Regions from separate parts of the Homo sapiens genome. Here region 2 is linked to region 1. The links come from fine-mapping of genetic effects on gene expression. A gene starts in region 1. The other region holds a variant in brackets. All regions are shown on one strand. Distances are between the middles of the regions.

Region 1 (2,899 bases):
TGGGCCTGACACAAGCCTGTAGCTCACTGTCCAGCAGTAGAGAGACCAGGAGATGCTTCCAGTTTGGGGAATCACAGCAGAGCCTCTCCCACTATTTTGTTTTGGTCAACTTTCAGTGACAAATCCTTCTCCTGACAGCTGCCCCACCTGGTTGGGAGGACACCACCCCCCCTGGGGACCTTGCTTTCCCTCCCGCTTCTTGCCACCTTCAGCCTGGGGTGGGAGGCACTGGGGAGAGCTAAGGGAAGTGTGTTGCCTTGCCTCCTTCCTGGCCTTGGAAGACCTCTCTACAGAGCCCAGCGGCCCACGGTTCTGGAAGCAAGAAGGGTGCAGGTCCACCTTGGTGCTCGTCCAGGGCCATGGGGAAGAGAGCCTCCTGAGTCCAGCCATCTGTTTCTCATCAGTCCCCACTCAGCCCTCCCCTGAGGCTGCTCATCACGACCAGCCTGGAGTTTTCAGAGACAGCGGCCTCAGGCGGGCTGGGGACAGGAGAGTAGCCTCGGCCAGGGTTTCCTTCCGCTTACCCAGTCCTGAGTCTGCAGTCCCTGCTGAACGCTGCTCTGGATACTGGGCTGGCCCCAGGCTGCTATCAGGCCCAGTGGGGGCCGCCTGTGCTCTTGGGAGAGGTGCGACTCCAGCTTCTTCCCCCGGGGGGACAGTTTCCTGCTGTCCATCTCTAGCCCTAGTAGGCTGCTTGTCCACACCTCTGAGATCTGGGGGTAGGAGCAGGGGGAGGTGGGGCGGGGCCCACAAGGCCACCCACGTGCCCACCAATACCTGAGTCCCTGGGGGCAGATGGTGGCAGTATCGCGGTCTGCTAGGGTCACCTTCCAGCCAAAGGTCAGGCATCACTGACCCCTCTGGGTGGAGTGGATCCCCCAGCTCCCGCCGCAGCTCTTCTCCACACCAGCCTCCCGAACTGTCCTCTCTGCCCCTGCCGACCCCACCCCGGGAGCCTGGAAAGCCTTCGGCAGCCTGCTGCACGGACTCCACGCCTCTGCCAGCCTTCTCAAACGTTCCAGGGGCATCAGCCCTCAGCCAGCACTGCGGGCACGCTCTCAGGGCCCGGCCTTGCTACGCCCGGGGCGAAGGAAAGGCCCAGAGCTCTTGCCACAGCCCCGCTTCCGACCCTGAGACCTCCCCTCCACGCGGCCCAGGCCTCGCCCCAGGCCCAGCCCGGAGCCCTTACGTGCCCGCCCTCTCCGGTGGGGAGGCGGGGTCTGCGCGGCCGGGGTCCGCGGAGGGACGGGGGAAGAAGGCTCAGGACACACGCTGGAGGCCGTGGGCACTCTGGGGTTCGGCGGGGGGGCGGGGTACACGGGAACGGCGGTCGGAGGTGGGGGGTACGTGGGCACCCGGAGACAGAAGGAGGGACAGACCCGCCGCGGATGGAGAGGCCACAGGGGGCCGCTGGAGTACACCGCGGCTTGAGGGGGCCCAAGGGGCCGGCGCCTCGCTCCAGAACGTCCGCTACGGCAAGCCCCGCCCCCACCGGTTCCGCTTCCGGTCTGCGCCGCGCCTGCGTTCTGGGCTCCGTTGCGGCGGGTGGGGGATGGGCGCGGTCTGGGGGTCCCCGGCGCATATCCGGGTCTATGGCCGCTACCGCCCCACGGGCCCTTCCGGGCGTCGGCCTCCGGGGTCTCCCGAAGCACAGACCTGAACTTGGGGTTTGTCGGCCAGAGCCCCTTTCGGCCCTGCGCCCTTCAAGCGGCGCGATGCCGCTGAGCCCCGGGCCACCTCCGCGCGCGCGGGGCCGCAGGGCTGGGGCGGGGCGACCCAGGACGGGGCGCGCGGGCGGGAGGGAGGCGCTGCTCCGCCGCGTGCTCCCAAGGGGTGGACGGCCGAGAGAATCACACTGCAGGCGGGGGCCGGCCCCTCCAGGTTTATTAGTGTTGCATCAGCACCTTGAAATAGTCCACACGGTCACATACGTGACATTAGAATCCGTTCCCCAAAAAGCTATTTACATTAATCCAGGGTTTCATTAAAAAAAACTAGCAACACATACATCCTAGAAACCAAACAATGCACAATGAACCGCATGGGGGTCTGCAGAAACTACAGTGGTGCTTCTTTGGCCCACAGGGTCAGATTCCAGAGGTGCCCAGCAAGCCCAGCTCTCAGTCCCCTACAGGCCACACACCCGCGGACGGCAGGACAGGTCTCGGGGAGGGGGCGGCCTGGCCCTCGGAAGAAGTGGCCTGGTCATTTTCATGAGGAATTCATTCCCGGAGGAAGGCGAGAGGCACTCAGGTCTTTCCATCTGGGAATGAGGACAGTGTGGCAAGGCTGCCAGTACCCTGCAGAGACACCCCCAGCTCTCACCCAGAGGCCCCTCTCCTGCCCCAGCTCTGGCCGAGGCACTGAACCAGGACACTGGCTTGCATGCCCAGAGACAGTGGCCAAGGGGACCAACATGGAAGAGGAAGGCAGCAGACCAGATTGCAGGGCGGGACTGGCCCACAGCTGGCCTGGGTGAGGGTGGGGTCTGTCTACGTAATAGTGGACAGTGGCCACCAGGCCTGAGGGGTGCCTCGGTGGTGACTGGTGGCTTAACCTTTGAGACTGATGGGGCTGAGCCCTAGCTCTACAAGGGGCTGCCTCCTGTCCTGTGAGGCCAGTCCAGGGCCAGGTTCTCGGGGGGTGTGCACACCTCACACACACATCCCCCGCCCTTACCGCACTGGCTGTCAGATGGCTTTGGTTTCTAGTTGTCCTTGGTGGGACAGAGTGCTCCTCCATGCACCCTCAGAACAGCTCTGTGAGGTAGGCAGGGAAAATGCGACCATCCTGTGTAACCAGTGGGAAAACCGAGGCACAGAGGGCTGGCATGGCCCAGGTCTTGTCTGCCCAACCTCCCTGGTGCTGGGCATGGTGTGGGGGATGGACCGTGGGGCTC
Region 2 (2,899 bases), 680 kb after region 1:
CAAGAAAACAAAAACTATCCAAAACAATCACTCAAAGGAGGGTCTCAGCACCATTCCCCACTCAGGGAACCTGGAGAAATGGCCAAGACCAAGGCCCGTGCAGGGATGGGGGGATCAGCAAGTCTGGGGTGAGCTAGGAACAGGGGCTTGTGCCAAAGATGGGAAGCGCTCAGGGCCCCCGCTGGTCCCCATCAAATGCACGGCAGTGGCAGTGAAGGATTACTGCACGTTCAAAACTCACGTGATGGAAAAAGGGAGGGGAGGGGGGAACGCTCGGACGAGGGGCGGCGAACACAGAACCGCGCTGCAGCGGTTGGTTCCACAGGTCACCACCGGTGCTTATTAACCAGACAGCGTGGTGTTCGTGCAGTGGAGGTTCAGAAACCACCCCCGCAGCCGTGGTCAGCGCTGCTGCCACAAACGTCCCCACCCAGCTGGGGAGGACATGGCATCCCTTGGGGTAGAACTCCTGCCCCAAAACTCAACCTGGACCTACTTGGGGGCGCAATCAGGCAAACCCAAAGTGAAGTTATCTTCCAGAACGTCAATGTCATACAAGACAAAAAGGGGCAGGAATGTTCTAGAACAAAAGAGACTGAAGTGATATGATAACCAAACACAGCATGTGACTCTGGATACAATCTTGTTTGCAAAAACAACAAAGCAACAACTAGAGAAGGAATTATTGGGGCAAGTGGCACATCTGCACTGGGACCGAGTATTAGAAGCATGTGGACGTGAAGCGCCCCACAGCGGACCCTGCCCGGGGGGGACTGGGAGGACGGCAGCGCACCCTGCCCGGGGGGGCGGACTAGGAGGACGGCAGCGCGCCCTGCCCGGGGGGGGGACTGGGAGGACGGCAGCGCACCCTGCCCGGTGGGGGCGGACTGGGAGGACGGCAGCGCACCCTGCCCGGGGGGGACTGAGGAAGACGGCTGTGCTCTCAGGTGTCTGTGGGCGAGTTTAGGGCTCCAGTGCCATGATGTTTATAAGAAACTCTCAGATGCCTCAGTTGGAGGGGGGCAATGTAGCAAAATGGTCACAATTTTGGTATTTTTGGCAAATGGTTGTAATTTCGGGGAGAAGGTGTTGTTCATTCTGATCTATGCAGTTTCCTGTGGTGTTGAAGATTTTCTAAATAAAAAGGTGGGGGCTGGGCACGGTGGCTCACGCCTGTAATCCCAGCACTTTGGGAGGCCGAGGCGGGTGGATCACCTGAGGTCAGGAGTTCGAGACCAGCCTGACCAACATGGTGAAACCCTGTCTCTGCTAAAAATACAAAAAATTAGCCGCGCGTGGTGGCGTGTGCCTGTGGTCCCAGCTACTCGGGAGGCTGAGGCAGGAGAATCACTTGAACCTGGAAGGTGGAGGTTGCTGTGAGCTCAGATCGCACCACTGCACTCCAGCCTGGGCAACAGAGTGAGACTCCGTCTTGAAAAAAAATAAAAAATAAAAAGTTGGGGAGAGAAGAGGACTTCTTCCTCTTGCCCTCAGCCACGTGCGTGGCAGGAGCTGGGGCGGGTGGAGGCTAAGCACGTGTAGCAGGTTCAGGAGGGAACCAGGTGGAGCGTGGAGCTGGCACTGGACA[C/T]GTCCATCTTTCACTGGACCATTGTCAGATGTGGCCGCCCGCCCCAGACCTGCATGCTCCACTGTTCCTCACACTCAGGGCCAGCAAGTCCAAGTTCCAGCCTCTAAGGGAGATGCCAGCACCTTTCTAAAAAGTACACGTGGGTGCTTCACACCAGAGAGCCACACTCGGAAGATGACCCTGGAAGCAAAAGCTGGAACCCAGGGTGAAGGCCGTGCCCCAACAGCGAGGACAAGCTGTCCGGAGAAGCTTCTCCGGGGTCACGACTGCTCTTGCCTCTGATGGGCACCAGCAGACCTCAGGTGTGCACCTTGAGCCTAAGCCCCAGGCCCAGCGGTCAGCATATTTGTGATGCACCGACACCGGGCTGGCTCTGAGCAAGGCTGGAGGTGCTGGAAGACGCCACGACCTGGGCTCACAGAGCTCATGATCGGCCGGGCTGGACCTTCTGGTTCTCTGCTCTAGCCCCTCCTCCACCCAGTGCAGGCTGGTCCTGTCTAGCTGGATGCATTGGCCTCTCCAGCCCTGTGGACGGACCTGGCTGATTGACCTTTGGCTGGTCGCCCCCCAGAAGACTCGGTGTGCGGGGGGTAATCTGCTTCTCCATAGACCCACCCATGGCCTCGGGGTGGGAGGACACTGTCCAACAGGAGGGGGGTTGCAGTGTACTTGTCCCTGGCAGCATCTGCCCTTGCGACTGTCCCGGTCTCCTCACAGACTTCCTGGGGACATGCCCCAGAAGGCCCCACGCCATTGACACACTTAGAGTGAAGATAGCCCTCCACCAACAGACAGAGCAGGAAAGCCACAGGGTTACTGGAACTGCAGTTAGCGCCAGGACACCAGACAGGAGCAACCTCAGCCTGTCCTGCCAGCCAGGAGGTCCCGCCCACGCCCCAGGGCCCGGATCCTGCTTGCTAAGGGAGTCCGGCTGGCCCTGCCACCTGCCCTCTCGAGGCCCGCATGCCCGGGGCCAGCACTGAGGTTGCGTCCTGCCTGCAGGAGGCACCAGTTGAGCAGGTAACCTGCGGAGAGGGAGGGGATGGGGCGGGAAGCCCACCACCAGGGCTGCGGGAGCGGCAAGGCCACACTGACGCACCACGCGGGCTGGAGAGAAGCCAGGTTAGTGTCCCGGAGGGGTGTGGGCAGCAAGCTCCAGCCCCACTGCCCTGCAGCTGCTGTTAGCCCCCACGGAGCGCCGGCTGCGTACATACCTTACTGGATCACACACAGTTTCTTTGTTTTATTATCATCAGAATCAGGGGGAACCTCTGCTTCCAAATAAAAGAAACGCACTCAACGGCTTATCAC

Alleles and levels. Alleles are on the strand shown, and positions count from the first base shown. SD is a standard deviation of normalised expression in the study named.
For the expression in breast of the gene that starts at base 1,477 in region 1, allele T in region 2 goes with a higher level than allele C (moderate effect, 0.52 SD a copy in GTEx).

Evidence for each region. PIP is the estimated chance that this variant, and not a neighbour inherited with it, causes the effect. A credible set is the group of variants that fine-mapping cannot tell apart.
Region 2: its variant is the best candidate, but not a certain one, in a credible set for the expression of TEX22 in breast (GTEx, PIP 0.87).

What each region holds. Positions count from the first base shown.
Region 1 is chr14:105,397,116-105,400,014 of GRCh38, reverse strand. TEX22 (testis expressed 22) reads right to left here and starts at 1,477. Exons shown (of 4, transcript NM_001195082.2): 1 at 1,380-1,477; 2 at 525-713. The coding sequence starts at 674. PACS2 (phosphofurin acidic cluster sorting protein 2) reads right to left here. Exons shown (of 25, transcript NM_001100913.3): 25 at 1,868-2,899. RefSeq lists enhancers at 366-876, 877-1,387 and a silencer at 1,055-1,964.
Region 2 is chr14:104,715,244-104,718,142 of GRCh38, reverse strand. It overlaps INF2 (inverted formin 2), which reads right to left. Exons shown (of 23, transcript NM_022489.4): 22 at 2,803-2,859. The coding sequence ends at 2,804. Among named protein-coding and RNA genes, the nearest start is that of ADSS1, 7.5 kb to the left of the region's middle. RefSeq lists an enhancer at 2,528-2,899. The variant C/T (reference allele first, on the strand shown) is at 1,589.